Homo sapiens: one gene and its partners. The protein of the gene in region 3 purifies or fractionates together with the protein of the main gene of each other region. This does not show direct contact. Each region holds a gene or a part of one and is shown on either strand. Other genes may lie near its edges.

Region 1 (3,500 bases), on a different chromosome or scaffold from region 3:
CAAGAAGACTGGAGGTTGGGAAGGACACAGAGAAGCCAAGACGGAGTCAGACATATAACCAGAGATGTCAACTGGGCCACAAACAGCATCTCCAAAGAGCTCCATTTGGAAGAATGTATCTGAGGTCTACCAATACTAGCCCCTTGCCACAAACAAACAAACAAAATGCCAATTTCCCACATGAAGCCAAATCAAAACCCTAGTAGCAGTGCTTATTAAACGATTTAAAAAAAAAAAATCAAACCTCACAAAGTAAGGCTGACTCCCAAGAGTCATCTAGCTTTCCTGGAGACACAGAGACACATAACAAGAATGCTGGGAAATGATCAACTACAAAGGACCATGAGAGAAATTTTGGGGGTGACAGAAATGTCTTGATTGTGGTGATGGTGACTTCAGGCATCAGTCAGAATTCCTAGGAATGTACACCTAAAATGAGCTTTACCATATGAGAATTATATCTCAATAAACCTGTCTTAAAAACAAACACAGAAGCATGCCTTCAGAGTGTTTCCCAAACACGCCCTTATGCCACCATGCTTCAGAATCTACGGGGTGACATAAAGGCTTCCAGGGCACTAGAGAGGAATGCTGTTACAGACAACACCTGTAAGAAAACGTTTTGTGTAACAAAGCTACTTACATGTATCAACTAATACTTCACATAACCTTGCCAATCAGCTAACAAACATTTTCTAAAAAGAAAACACTGAGCAATTTTTTTCCTCTAGGTCCCTGTACAAAGCAACTCTTCTCTACAATGAAAATATGTACGTGATACCTTCTGTTCTGAGCATAAGGTGACCAGGACAAATACACTAAGTCACATCATCAAGGACTTAACTTTAACCTTATAACTCTTAGAACAGTAGCCATTCAAAAAGGACCAGGAAGTTTCAAAGGCAGCACAGAGGTGGGGAACACTCCGAACTCACTTGTTTTGCCCCAAAAACAAGAGGACCTAACAAGAAATTATTAGTATTATAAAAACAACTGTTACAATGAAATAATCTGGGGAAAAGTTTAAATTGTAAAATGGCCAGTATCATGTAATTATTTCCATTTTTTTCTGACTAGGGCAAGGAGGTATTATTTTCCTCATATTACCAACCAAACTGAATTCCTTTCAAAAAAACAATTTACTTACTGTTTCTTCTCATTCATTTCCCAGGCTTCAAGTATTCGTTCTATTAATTGACATTTTTGGAAAAGCTGAAAAAAAAAAAAAGAATATTCCAGTTAATACTTCAAAGCATCAAAACTTTAAAGTGAAACAGAACTCTAGGTTAAAGAGAATAGTAGTATGCATAATCTAGCAAGCTAAATGTTACTAAGCCAAATGCAATGTGATCATCAATCTACTGCAGACACCCACAACACTACAGAGATTCAAATCAGGATCCACACCCTCCACAGAACATCTACAGGAAACTCAGTATTATAGGTAGTGCAGTTAACTACCTATAGTTAACTATAAAGGAAAGCCAGGTTTTATTAGCTGTGAAAATTCAGAACAGAAATATAAAACCTGAGCTAAATTAAAATGGAATAAAGAAAACTATGCCTTGGCAAAAATTTAACTTAGAATCCAAAGTAATGCTTGTACTTTTAAAATGTGAGCACGTCTTACTTCCAGATGAACTAACATTACTGCATTAATATTAAAAACAGGTGGGTTTTGCCCAAAGTCTGCAAGTCAGTGACAACTGCTGTAGGCTGCAATACTGGAATGTGCAGGGCTAGTTCTTCTCAGGTGTCATTTGTCTTTCCCATCAACTTGGCTGTTCCAAGCTAGCCTTTTCTACATTTTAGGTTTGCGAGTAAACCAAGTGTGGGCTAGAAATTTTAAAAGTACCATAGAACTACCAAGCAAGAAAAAATCTGAAGACTGACTTAGTAAAATTATCTCATATTTGACAGAAGAGAAAAAGAGACCCCAGGAAGACTCTCAACATCACAAAGAACTCAGTTCTCCTGACTTTCAGTCACGTATTCAGCAAAGAAACTACACTCTGGTCAGCCAAATAATAGTGCAAATGTTTTCCATAGTATTTAAATTTCTATGATTCTTCAAATCATCAAAGAATTTATATATCTTCAAACCTATTAATTTTACCAAATAAGGAGGCCACTTAGCTTTTTTCTTACAAGACTGTTCATTTAATAGTTATTTGTCCAGTACTTGATTTATATAATGATTTATATGTTAAAAGTGAAACGAACACATGATTGTCAAATATTTAGACTCTGAAATCTAACCTCAAGCCCTTTAAACCTCAATTCACATCACAGTCAAGTGGAAAACTGCTATAACCAGGAGAGAGTGGGAGAAAAACGAGACCAAATAAGCTTACATGTTTTAATAACAAATTATCACCAGTGGAGTCTTGATCGGTAATTGTGGCATTTTCTGTGTTTTCAAAAGGACTTGCAAGAATCAGTGCAATACAAATTTCCACTTGTGTATGCAAAAAGTTATTCCATGTATACTTGAAGAACATGTTCTACAAAAAAGAAAAACCATGTTTTATTCGGTTACCTCAATGTTTAAGCCAATACTTAAATACATTTACAGAACAGTGATTTAATAAAGTAAAAATGATGTGCTCTCAGTCCAAAAGGACCAATTAAAAGGAACCTGAGTTCACATTAGTACTTGCATAACCACAGTTTCATTTTCTGTGGTTTCAGTTACCCACAGTCAACCATGATCTGAAAATAGGTGAGTATAATACAGTAAGACATGCTAATCCAAGAGATGACATTCACATAACATTCATTACAGTATAGATTTATAATTGTTCTACTTTATTATTAGTTATTATTAATCTCTTCCTGTGCTTAATTTATAAATTAAACTTTGTCACAGGTATGTATAGGAAAAACACATAGTATATATAGGGTTCGATAGCTGTGGTTTCAGGCATCCAAAGGAGTCTTGGAAGGTATCCCTCATAAATAACGAGGACTAAATGGGGATGTGAAGTATTGCTTTAGAGCCTAAATGGCGTGCTATCTGCTTATCTGACATGCCAGAACTGGTATGGAATCTAGTAAAAAACCAACAACAAACATACAAAGACAAGAGTACGTTTCTCCAAGAGAAAGGGAGTATCTTTTTTCTCTTCAAAGCAACTAACACAAATAGTTAGCGTGGTAAATTTTCTATAATTTTCAAAAAAATTTATAAGAGGCCAGGCGTGGTGGCTCATGCCTGTAATCTCTGCACTCTGGGAGGCCGAGGCGGGCGGATCACGAGGTCAGGAGATCAAGACCATCCTAACACGGTGAAACCCCGTCTCTACTAAAAATACAAAAAAATCGCTGGGTGTGGTGGCGGGCGCCTGTGGCCCCAGCTACTCAGGAGGCTGAGGCAGGAGAATGGCGTGAACCCAGGAGGCGGAGCTTGCAGTGAGCCAAGATCACTGCACTCCAGCCTGGGCGACTGAGCCAGACTCCATCTCAAAAAAAAAAAAAAATTGTAAGAATTTCATTTTGAT
Region 2 (4,236 bases), on a different chromosome or scaffold from region 3:
TCCCAGCTACTCGAGTGGCTGAGGGAGGAGAATTGCTTGAACCCAGGAGGCGGAGGTTGCAGTGAGCTGAGAATGCACCACTGTACCCCAGCCTATGCGACAGAGCGAGACCTTGTCTAAAAAAAAAAAAAAAAAACTTTATGATAATCTACTTCCACTTAATGAATAGTAAATATATTTTCCCTTCCTTGAGATTTTCTTAATAATATTTTCTTTTCTCTAGGCTACTTTAAGAATACAGTATGTAATACACAGAAGATAGAAATATGTTAAATGACTATGTTTATCAGTAAGGCTTCTGGTCAACAGCAGGTTTTTACTAATTAAGTATTTGGGGAGTCCAGAGTTATAGTGGATTTTAGACTGTGCAAGGTTGATACCCCAAACCCACACCGTTCAAGGGTCAACTGTATAATGTAACAAGATTATATAGCTATTAATTTTTAGTTAAAAACAAATCCGTTCCCACAAATAGATACAGTAACTGTAACATTCTAGGATGGGGTGGTAAGTTAACATTCTGGATCAAGTGTTAATTTTATTGTGTTTTATTTCAATACATATTAAACTATATTCTTTTGTATGTATCACATGTTACATCAGAAGAATGTAATTTTTAAAAATTAAAGCAACAAAAGAACAATTAGTTTAGAAGTTTGGTCCTTACATTTAAAAAAAGAAGTAAATACAAGAAAACTAAGCATTACATGCCAGCAGTACATATTTATTATTATTCATGAATGGTGAAAAGACTTACAAGGCCCATTATTATGAGTATAACCACACATATGAAATATCACTTAGCGGCAACATGGGATGAAAAGGACAGTTATATATTTATATTAAAAAAATACACGTTTGCATTCAATGTTTGCCTAGAAAAAAAATACATGTACACACGCTCTTTCAAGTGCTCCCCATAAACTGCTATAAAAGCAGGAGGCATCAAGCTGTAGAAGTTCCAATATACATAACATGTTGAAATATCTCAAGCATAAAAACTGTACGTAACTTGCAAAAATAAAGTTCCTTTCTTCAAACATTTTGATCTGAGCTCAGGCAAAGCAAATAATGAACACCAATGATTTTTATACTATTTCACACAATTTAAAATAATCAACATGAAAAGGTCAACAGCTTCAAAAATCCTGAAAATATGGAGGTTACGAGAATGAACAATTTCATCTGAAAAGTCTACAGCAGATCTGCTTCATCCTGACTCTCAAATATTTAAGGATCATAATTTACTATACTCAAACTCCAAGTTTAGCCAGGACAAACAAAATGATAAAAAGAAAAATTACTGCAAACAGGGCATGACTGCCCTTTAGTTTCTTTAGACAATTTCACTAGTGCAAGAGCATCATTTACCTGAAAGATCCTAAGAGTCACAATTAAAGTACTCATACAAAACTATTTCCTTTGTTCTTTAAAAAGTGCCACATACTATACTTTTCATTTAAAAAAAAAAAAGAACCCAACACAAATAAACTAATGAAAGACCGTTTGTCTCCATCTCTTGTCAATGAGGAAAGGCCAAAGTGATTCTTTGATTCCAATTCGAAATGGTGTTCGTTGGCCAATGCCCAAGGTCTCCAATTTGGAGCAGTCAAGCTGAGCATTTCTCGGACGTTGTGCTCCTAGGACAGGGCTGTCAGTAATCTTTAAAGAAAGATAAACACAAAAAAATCAAAAGTAAGTGAAAGGCTATATTTTGAGGGCTTTGTTCCCCCTGACCTTTTTTTAAATATGTATATATTTTTAAACAGAGATGAGATCTCCCTCCATTGCCCAGGCTAGTCTCAAATTCCTGGGCTCAAGGGATCCTCCTGCGTCAGCCTCCCAAAGTGTTGGGATTACAGGCATGAGCCATTGTGCCTGGCCATTTTGAGGTTTTATATTTGCTACTTATTTTTGCTCTTAGTGTAAGAAATCTGATTTGATCATCCCTGGAAAAATAAACCAAATGCCTGTCATGATCAAGACAATAATACATTTTCTACAAACTTCAATACTCATGATCTTCTCTACAGATGATAATTTAGAGAAAAGTAGCACTATGAACAGCCAGCATACAAGCAAAGTTCACTTTGATTAGTACTGAGAAATGAAGTTACCCAACACAGCAATAATATATACCATAGCAATGGATCTAAAGGTTTTTACAGCCATGTACTTACAGGTCTTAAGTGACTGCTGGGGAGGTTGAAGGCATCTGCAATTGCACATGCCATTTCATACTTAGTCATCTGTTCATTGCCAGACCAGTGAAAGGTTCCCTTAATTGATGGATCCTAAGAACGATGACACAATAAATTCAATAGTTTCAACTTTTTGAGCTGAGTAGAATAGGTTTGACCAAAAAGCTTACTTAAAATAAGGTCCAGGAACTAAAAGGCAACCCTCTTTTTCTGGAAAGGTCTCCACAAGATATCTAAAATCAAATTCCTACTAATACTCTTAGCAAAACACTTAAAAGAGCAATTTCTAGAATTTAAACCTTAAGAATTTTTAAAATCAAAAAAAGGCTCCAATTTTACTTAATTAGTGGGAATATAAAAAAGCATTACAAATTTTTATGAAAACAGTACAATTTAATGAGTATTTTTAATTATCCCAAGCTACAACAAAAACTTAATAGAACCATTTTTCAAGTTGAGCTAAACTTTCTTAAATATTGTCATGTTATATATTACAAAATATAATTCTCATATATTAAAAAACTGTGGTCATCCTATTAATATTCTAAACTAAATCAGTCTCATCTTTCTTTGTATGGATATTATATTTAATACCAACTTTTTCAAATGTGCTGGGATTACAGGTGTGAGCCATCACGCCCAGCCCCCAAAGAGTATCTTCTTAAAAGACCTTAGATGATTATTTTGAAGTTTCCTAACACTTTGCAATAAAAGAAATGATGGGATCTATAGTACATAAGAAATAAATTCAAACAGAAGAGCATAATATTTTTATTCTTCATGAATACAGTGTATATGTAAACTACTTTTGTTTGGTCTCCTAGTTTTAAAAAAGCACTTTTGGCTTTCACTCAGTAACACTCCAAGTACAGCTGTGAAAGTTCAAGCATGGAAAAGACAAAGCGGACCTTCGCTAAGACAGGACTCAGGAATCCTTCTTACCAGCATTCTCTTCTCTGCTAGCTGCCGGCACACAGTGGCCACATCTTTGACATGTGTGGGGAACCTCTGCTGCCAGTGATCCATGTTTGCTGACTTGTTGCTGAACTGCACTTTATCAAACATAACAGTCACAGCACTTTCTTCGAGCTTTTCAACTTCCCCATACAGAATAGGAATCCTCAAAACAGCAGCTCCTAGAGAAGAATAAAAGCAAATAATTTAAAGCTGACTGATTCTTAAATTTTGATGTAAGATACAAGGGTGTGGATTTAAATAATATCAAAGTAGAAACCTTGCCTTTTAATTAAAATATACCAAAATGACACAGCTCACTTGTGACAACGCAATGTAAAAATATTCAAGGCCAGGCACAGTGACTCATGCCTATAATGCTAGCACTTTGGGAGGCCAAGGCAGAAGGATCACTTGAAGCCAGGAGTTCAAGATCAGCCCGGGCATCATAGCAAAACTCCGTCTCTACAAAAAATTAAAATGAAAATTAGCTGGGCATGGTGGCACATGCCTGTAGTCCCAGCTACTTGGGAGGCTGAGTAAGGCAAAAGGATCTCTTGAGCCTGAAGTTCAAGGTTGCAATGAGCTATGACTGCACCACTGTACTCCAGCCTGGGCAACAGAGTGAGACCCTGCCTCAAAAATAAAATTAAAAACAGTCAAAGGCTGAGTGCGGTGGGGCTCATGACTGTAATTCCAGCACTTGGGAGTCCAAGGCAGGAGGACTACTTGAGCCCAGGAGTTCGAGACCAGCGTGGACAACACAGTGAGACCTCGTCTCTACAAAATGTAAAAAAATTAGCCGTTCGTGGTGGGAGGATTGCTTAAGCCAAGGAGGTCAAGGCTATAGTGAGCTGTGTTCACCCTACTGCACTCCAGCCCAGGCGACTGAGACCCTGTCTCAAAAAAAAAAAAAAAAAAAAAAAAAAGAAAAAGGCAAAACCACATTTGTTAAGTATCTTCTGTCATTTGGACTAGTTTTTTTTATATATATAAATCCTACATTAATATGATCATTAAAAATAAAACTTATCATGACAACTGAATGCAATGAATAGTCTTTGACTGGATGCTAGATTAA
Region 3 (3,500 bases):
GAGTTCCTGTGATTCCCTTGACTGTAGGAATCAGCACAAACCTAACCATTTGAAAATTGAGAAAGTAAAAATTTAAGAATATAAATTTTATCAGGTGTATCCAGGCAGGTCTAAAGTTCTTTACAATTGTATTGATGATAATAGCTTTGAAAACCATAAAAATATATCTTCTCCTCCCTGGCCACATCAGTGATTGAAATCAGCCACACAAATTTCTTTTCCTGATATATCAGTCAACAAATATTTAATATGTGCTTTCTCTGCACTAGAGGATTTCGGGGTGCTGGAGTACACTATGAAATCAGACAGATACTTCACCCTCAACCAGCTGACTCTTGAATGGGATAAGGAAGTGTTGGCCAACAATAAAAGTGTCACCACTGGCTAGAGGTCTCTGGTTATTCCTAGAGAAGAGGCAGCCCTAGCAACCTCTTATCCAGTTTAATGGCTCTCACCCACATACCTGCTGCATCCCACATCCCCCTCCAACAGTGGGAAAGATGGGCAGAGAGAGAGAGAGAGAGAGTGTGTGTGTGTGTGTGTGTGTGTGTGTGTGTGTGTGTGTGTAGTGTGTGAGAGTGAAGCCTTTGGGCTTGGGGACCTGGAGGATAAATGCTTTGAGGATAAATGTGAGGTTCAAAAGTCCGGCACTGGCCAGGCACAATGGCTTATGCCTGTAATCCCAGCACTTTGGGAGGCCAAGGCATGATGATTGCTTGAAGCCAAGAGTTCAAGACCAGCCTGGGCAATGTAGCAAGACTCTATGTCTACAAAACATTTTCAAAATTAGCCAGGTGTGGTAACACGTCTGTAGTCCTATTTTTACTCAGGAGGCTGAGGTGGGAGGATCGCTTGAACCCATGAGTTTGTGGCCACAGTGAGCCATGATCATACCACTGCACTACAGCCTGGGCAACAGTTGTTGTTTCAAAACAACAACAAAAAAGGCTGGCACTGTGAATGTCAGGTGAATGTGAGTGGCACTCACAGCTGGCACGGGAATGTCACTACTCACAGTGCATTCTATTGCTGGAGATGCAGAATTAGGCTCAACCCAGACCGATGGAATCACTCTACATTTTAACAAGATCCTTGGGTTATTTACATACACATTAAAGTTTTGGAGGCATTGATTTAAAATACATTAAAAATAGTACAAAATTATTAAAGTAGGAAAAAAAGTGTATCTCTTGACTATCTAAAAGTATCTCAAATACCACAAACTAGTATGTGATTCACTCTCTCACCTACAGGATGAAATCTCAAATCCTTAGCTTGGTGTTCAATTCATAGTCACATTTTCCCATAGCTATCTCCCACTTTGTCCTGTATTAATAGCATTTTAGGTCAAACCAGCCTACTCCTTGTCCACTGATTATGCCACAGTATTCCCTCTTCTACACGTTACTGACACCATTCTCTGTACTTTTTAGGGCATCTTTCCATCTTTCTTCAGCATATTGCCGCCTTTCCCTTGCCCTGCACCACACTGGACTTTATTTTCATAATTATGTCCTGTATATTCTGCCTCCCAGTAACTAGACTTTGAGCTCCTTGAGGGCAAAGCCTGTCTCTGGAGTCCCAGTAATGAGCACAGTGTGTTGTTGCACAGGGCCCAGTGCAACAATGAGTAAATACTCATTGCCTGAGTCAGAGGAAGGAAAGGAAGGTAAGACGCAGTGATGCGCATCACCTCCCTAGGGAGCAGAGGCTGAGCTGCACCTTGGGACCAGCCACACAAGGCTAGTGTTCACTAGGGGTGGGGTGGTCTGTCCCCTCCTATGATTCTGCCTCCTAAACAGCAGCACCTGCCTGCCATAATACTGAAAATCATTAGGCTCAATCAGTCCTTGGGAGCAGAGTGTGTGTGTGTGTGCGTGCGCGCGCATGTGGTGTGTGTTAATGACCAGTTGGTTGTTTGAAATATCCTCCTCGGCAATTCTATTTTTGTTTACATTTAAACAAACAAACAAAAAGCATGTCAGTGTCACACAGGTGTCAGTGTCTGACTTCACGTGTCAGCAACTGCAAGCTTTCCAAAGGGTCTCACTCGAGGGGTGGTGCTCAGGAAAGCCTGGTCACTATTATTTCAAGTCAGCAATGTGCCCCATCATTTCTTTTTTTTTTTCTTTCTTTCTTTCTTTCTTTTTTTTTTTTTTGAGACAAAGTCTCGCTCTTGTCCCCCAGGCTAGAGTGCAATGGCGCGATCTTGGCTCACTGCAACCTCCGCCTCCCGGGTTCAAGCAATTCTCCTGCCTCAGCCTCCCGAGTAGCTAGGATTACAGGCATGTGCCACCACGCCCAGCTAATTTTTTGTATTTTTAGTAGAGACAGGGTTTCTCCATGTTGGTCAGGCTGGTCTTGAACTCCTGGCCTCAGGTGATCTGCCGGCCTCGGCCTCCCAAAGTGTTGGGATTACAGGTGTGAGCCACTGCGCCCAGCCGATGTGCACCATCATTTCTATGGTTCATCGTGGCTGCGGAACAGTGCACTTAGCACCCACCTTGGTAAAGAACCTAGAAAATTACCTGAGAAAATTAAATAGTTCACACACAATTGTTTCAGGCCTCAGGTCTCTGGCATTTTGTTTAAGGTGACCTCAGTTTTGGCAGCTGCGTTTATTAAATTCTATGTACCTGTCACTCCACCTTGTAACTTTAAAGAATTACAAATGACAATGTTTTTAAGCATACAGAGCTAAGCTAGGAATGCTGAACACTGTGTCGAAGATCCGAGGGCAGGTGAAGACCACAGGATACCCGCAGACGGAAGGCTTGCTGGGGGACTGTATGCTGAAATACGGGAAGGAGCTCGGGGAAGACTCCACCTTTGGTGAGTTATTCAGAGATCAGCTGGGGGAGCTGAGAACTCCTCCAGTATGGTTTTAGGTTATACACAAACCCTTCAGTCTAACAACCTTTGTTATTTTTCCATATTACCAAAGTAATACATGTTAATTGCAGGAGGTTTAGAAAACATAGGTAAGTAAAATAAAGAAAAATGCTAACATCACCCATAATCCCATATCCACCGATAGGCCCAATTAAACTCTGTTGTGTATCTTTTTTTTTTTTTTTTTTTTAGACAAAGTCTATGCCCAGGCTGGAGTGCAGTGGCGCGATCTTGGCTCACTGCAGCCTCCACCTCCCAGGTTCAAACGATTCTCGTGCCTTAGCCTCCCGAGTAGCTGGATTACAGGCTCAAGCCACCATGCCTGACTAATGTTTTGTATTTTAAATAGAGACAGGGTTTCGCCATTTTGGCCAGGCTGGTTTTGAACTCCTGACCTCAAGTGATCCGCCTGCCTCGGCCTCCCAAACTGCTGGGATTACAGGAGTGAGCCACTGCACTTGGCTTGTTGTGTATCTTTTATGCCTTGTTTATTCTTATATGTATTCATATGTACTTTTAAAAACTACAGTAAGGCTATAGTACATATACTCTTTGGTAACACTGACTATATAATGATCCATATCGTAAAATAATTAATCTTCCATGAT
Region 4 (3,500 bases), on a different chromosome or scaffold from region 3:
AGTTATAGATGAGGTGGTCCAAATGGAAGATCAGGGCAAGTGCGGGAGTTTCCGAGGAGGCTCAGGCCCGACGGACAGCAGAAAGGACAGAGGTTCATCCTGGGGCTGCAGGTCACTGGGCAGAGAGGCCTCCAGGGACCTGGGCGCACAGGCATCTATGCCTGCAGTGAAGCCAGGGGTGCAGAGCCCAGGTCCCCAGCAGGCAGTGAGGGAGGTGCTGGCCCCTCAGACATCAGGCCCTTGCGGCCCACGTGGGGTCCCTTCTGGCAGGTGGAGGAGCCCACGTGGGCTCTGGAAAACACCAGTCTCATCCCGTCTCCCTCTACCTGGCTGGCCCTCCACAGTGACCCTCCGTGCTTTGTCTGGCATTTTTTTTATCTGCGTGCTAATCTCTCTCTCTTTTTCTCAGAGTTTTGCTCTGTCGCCCAGGCTGGAGTGCAGCGGCGTGATCTCAGCTCACTGCAACCTCCACCTCCTGGGTTCAAGTGATTCTCCTGCCTCAGCCTCCCGGGCAGCTGGGATTACAGGCACGAGCCACCATGCCCGATTAATTTTTGTATTTTTGTAGAGACAGGGTTCCACCATCTTGGCCAGGCTGGTCTGGAAGTCCTGACTTCGTGATCCACCTGCCTCGGCCTCCCGAAGTGCTGGGGTGACAGGCGTGAGCCAACATGCCCGGCCCGTTAGCAAGCTGAGGGTCCCTTGAGCACAAAGACTCCCAAGGGCCCACAGTACTGGCACCTGCGTGACCCCGAGTGAGTGAATACATGCTCCAGATGGTGACCCCTGCTGGGGAACACAGACCCTGGGGGTGGCTCAAGGTAGTGAGATGGGGTCCCCCGGTCCTTCCGCAGCCCCTCATCGCACTCTGTACCCTTTGCTGCTTTTGTCCAGAGAAGGCAGGTGATGTCGTGGTGAGCGGTGAGAGAAACGGAGCCTATGTGCAGGTGTGCGTGCCCCTTGTGGGTTCTTGTCACATGTCCCTTCCCATCACGGATGAGCAGAGACGCCCCTGCCCCACCAGGAAGGAGCCTCCGTATTTCTGGACGGTGAAAAGAGGTGTCCTGCTCAGAGGGGAGGAGCCTTCCTGGGGAATGATGTAGCTGGAAAGTCACTGGGGGTGGTCGGGACCCACCCGAGGGTATCGAGACCACAAAAATCAGTGCACGCTCCGCCTTCTGTGGGAAGTCTCAGTGTCGGTGAGGGACCGGTGGCCCCCAGGAACCCCATGTTTCTCTCTGCAGGGTCAGCTGTGCTTCTGTGACTAGGGGTTGAGGGGTGCATCCCACCTGGGTGGTGGAGGTGTCGGGAAAGGCCCTGAGTTGGATGAACACGGACTTCCCACCAATTGCTGGCTGGAAACCCTCCTCGGGGGAGGAGGAGCAGGAAGAGGCCTCGTGGTTCCAGAAATTCCAGGAAGGCCTTTCCGGAGCTGGGGCCCAGGCTGTCTTTGAGGATCCTGGGGTGGAGGAGACGGAGAGGTCTGAGGCATGGGGATGGGCTGCAGGGGCCACTGCTCTCTCCCATCGACGCCATCAGCCCCAGGTCCTAGAACGGAACAGGCTGCCTGTGTGGGCCCCCGGGCCTGGACAGGACCCTGCCGTCTAGGGGCCGGCTCTGCCACAGCTACCAGTGGGGTGGGTGATGTGGGGGCTGGACAGGCACTCCAAGCTCCCCCTCTCCACTGCCCTGGCCACACCAACTGCCAGGGCAGCCCATGCTCACCAGCAGAAGGAAGTCCCCTTGGGCGAGAGGGCGGGAAGCCCCAGTGGCCTCTGGGTGGCATCTGGGTCCAGGGAGCGTCCAGGGGGTTGTGTGCCCTGACCTGGTGCCAACCTGGGCAGCAGGCTCTCGGGGGGGGGGTGGGCTGGGTAGGACTTCAGGGATGGTGGGGAAGGAAGAGACCAGGGTACTTGGTGGCTGCACACGGGCCCTCGAGTGCCCCGGGAGCTCAGGAAGACACTCTGACCTAGGCAGGTCTGGACCAAAGCTCTGAACTCATCCCACTTCCTATCCCGAAGATCTAGACCACAATACCAGGCTGCTTGGGGCAGGGCCAAGGGGAGGCTCGAGTGAGCTGAAAGGGCCCTGCTGATGACCCAGGGACAGGGTCTGGGGACACCTGAGCCAGCAGGGAGGCGTTCGGCCTTCAGCTGTGAGTGCCGGGCAGCCTCTGGGAGGAAGGAGCTCCTGGAATCTAGAACACCCTCTCCAGCTGCCTTCCAAGGTAGGAAGGCTCTGCATGAACAAATACTCCAAGGTTGGGGAGCGCATGGCCTCTGAGGAGGCCCAGGTCTTTGTTCTTCGTGGGGCACCACGCCGATGCCGTAACTTCTGCCTGCAGCCCTGCCCTGGGTGCAGGTCATGGAGGATGACTCTCTCCTCTGGGTCCCTGGATGAAAGATCTGCAGACCATGACCCTGAACCCTCTGCCAGACCTGAGAGACCCCAGCCTGAAGAAAGGAAGGTCAAGGCCGTCTGTCCATCCTCTGGGCTCTGGGTGCTTCCCACCTGGACACGCTTCCTGGGAGGCTCTGGAGGCTAATAACTGGGTGGTGAGACTCCCATCCTCCTGGTTGGAGAGTACTTCATTGGATGCAGCATTCACCTTTTCAGCAGCTGCTGCTCACTCGGGGATTCTCTCCATGGTCTGTGGCCTCTCACGGGCAAGCCAGACCCAAGCCAGCCTCTGTTTCTGACTTTCCTGTCCTTGCGTGGCAGGAACTAGGGGACAGGGCTGGGTCCTTTCTTCTTTGTAGCCTCAGTGCCAATTCAGTGCCTGGAACACGGCAGGTGCTCAGCAAATGTCTGCCGAGTGAAGGAAGACTTTATGTGTGTCCTGGTAGGCTGTGTCTGGTGGCCCCAGGTGTCCAGGAGGCATCTGGCCTCGGTTCTGTTGTTCAGTTAGAGTGCTAGGTCCGTCCCCAAGCTGTGTTATCTGTGTGTCTGACCCTCCTGCTTCTGGTTTTCTTCTGGGACGAACCCCTGAGGCTCACCATGAGAGACCCCCTCGTCTGTCCATAAGGTGGCTGTCAGAGGTTTGAGCAGATAAGCTGTGTCTACTGGAGTCAGTCAGAAGGAGACCCAGCCTGCTCTAGCGTGACTTGTTTATGGTGAACCCGGCTTGGCTCCTGGGATCATCTCTGTCTTTTCTAAGCACACACAGGGCGTGGGTTTGATGAATAAGAACCAGAGCAGACAGGGAAGCTTGGCCCCTGCTTCTACCACCCTGGGGCCTGGCCTTTTCCATGTGTGTCCTGTGGCTGTAGGAACCCTGGGTATCAGGATGCTGGGGGCGCTGGAAAGGCTGATGGTCTCGGGGCAGATTCGGGCTGGGCGGGGCTCCAAGCAGGGAGGAAAGGCACCGCCTGGGTGCCAGATGAGGGTCGGGTCCAGCCCAGGAGGTGGCTGGGTGGGCTCTCTCGGCAGAGGGCCTGGGTGACGCTGGAGGAAGCCCCTGCCCACACATGCACCGGGGGAAGGCTCCTATCTGCGTCCAC

The links. The genes of interacting proteins can lie anywhere in the genome.
Region 1: the proteins of SH3GL3 (region 3) and PPP6R3 purify together in Homo sapiens (affinity purification with mass spectrometry; one large-scale study listed by BioGRID and IntAct). This does not show direct contact.
Region 2: the proteins of SH3GL3 (region 3) and MAT2B purify together in Homo sapiens (affinity purification with mass spectrometry; one large-scale study listed by BioGRID and IntAct). This does not show direct contact.
Region 4: the proteins of SH3GL3 (region 3) and RBFOX3 purify together in Homo sapiens (affinity purification with mass spectrometry; one large-scale study listed by BioGRID and IntAct). This does not show direct contact.

Annotation. Positions count from the first base shown.
Region 1 is NC_000011.10:68,568,752-68,572,251, reverse strand, and holds part of PPP6R3 (serine/threonine-protein phosphatase 6 regulatory subunit 3), read right to left. Parts: intron 2,505-3,500; coding exon 2,355-2,504; intron 1,213-2,354; coding exon 1,148-1,212; intron 1-1,147.
Region 2 is NC_000005.10:163,515,619-163,519,854, reverse strand, and holds the end of MAT2B (methionine adenosyltransferase 2 subunit beta), read right to left. Parts: intron 3,338-4,236; coding exon 3,144-3,337; intron 2,295-3,143; coding exon 2,181-2,294; intron 1,663-2,180; coding exon 1,492-1,662; 3' UTR 501-1,491; downstream 1-500.
Region 3 is NC_000015.10:83,565,841-83,569,340, forward strand, and holds part of SH3GL3 (endophilin-A3), read left to right. Parts: intron 1-2,688; coding exon 2,689-2,832; intron 2,833-3,500. UniProt on the Homo sapiens protein: Implicated in endocytosis. May recruit other proteins to membranes with high curvature.
Region 4 is NC_000017.11:79,111,052-79,114,551, forward strand, and holds part of RBFOX3 (RNA binding protein fox-1 homolog 3), read right to left. Parts: intron 1-3,500. UniProt on the Homo sapiens protein: Pre-mRNA alternative splicing regulator. Regulates alternative splicing of RBFOX2 to enhance the production of mRNA species that are targeted for nonsense-mediated decay (NMD).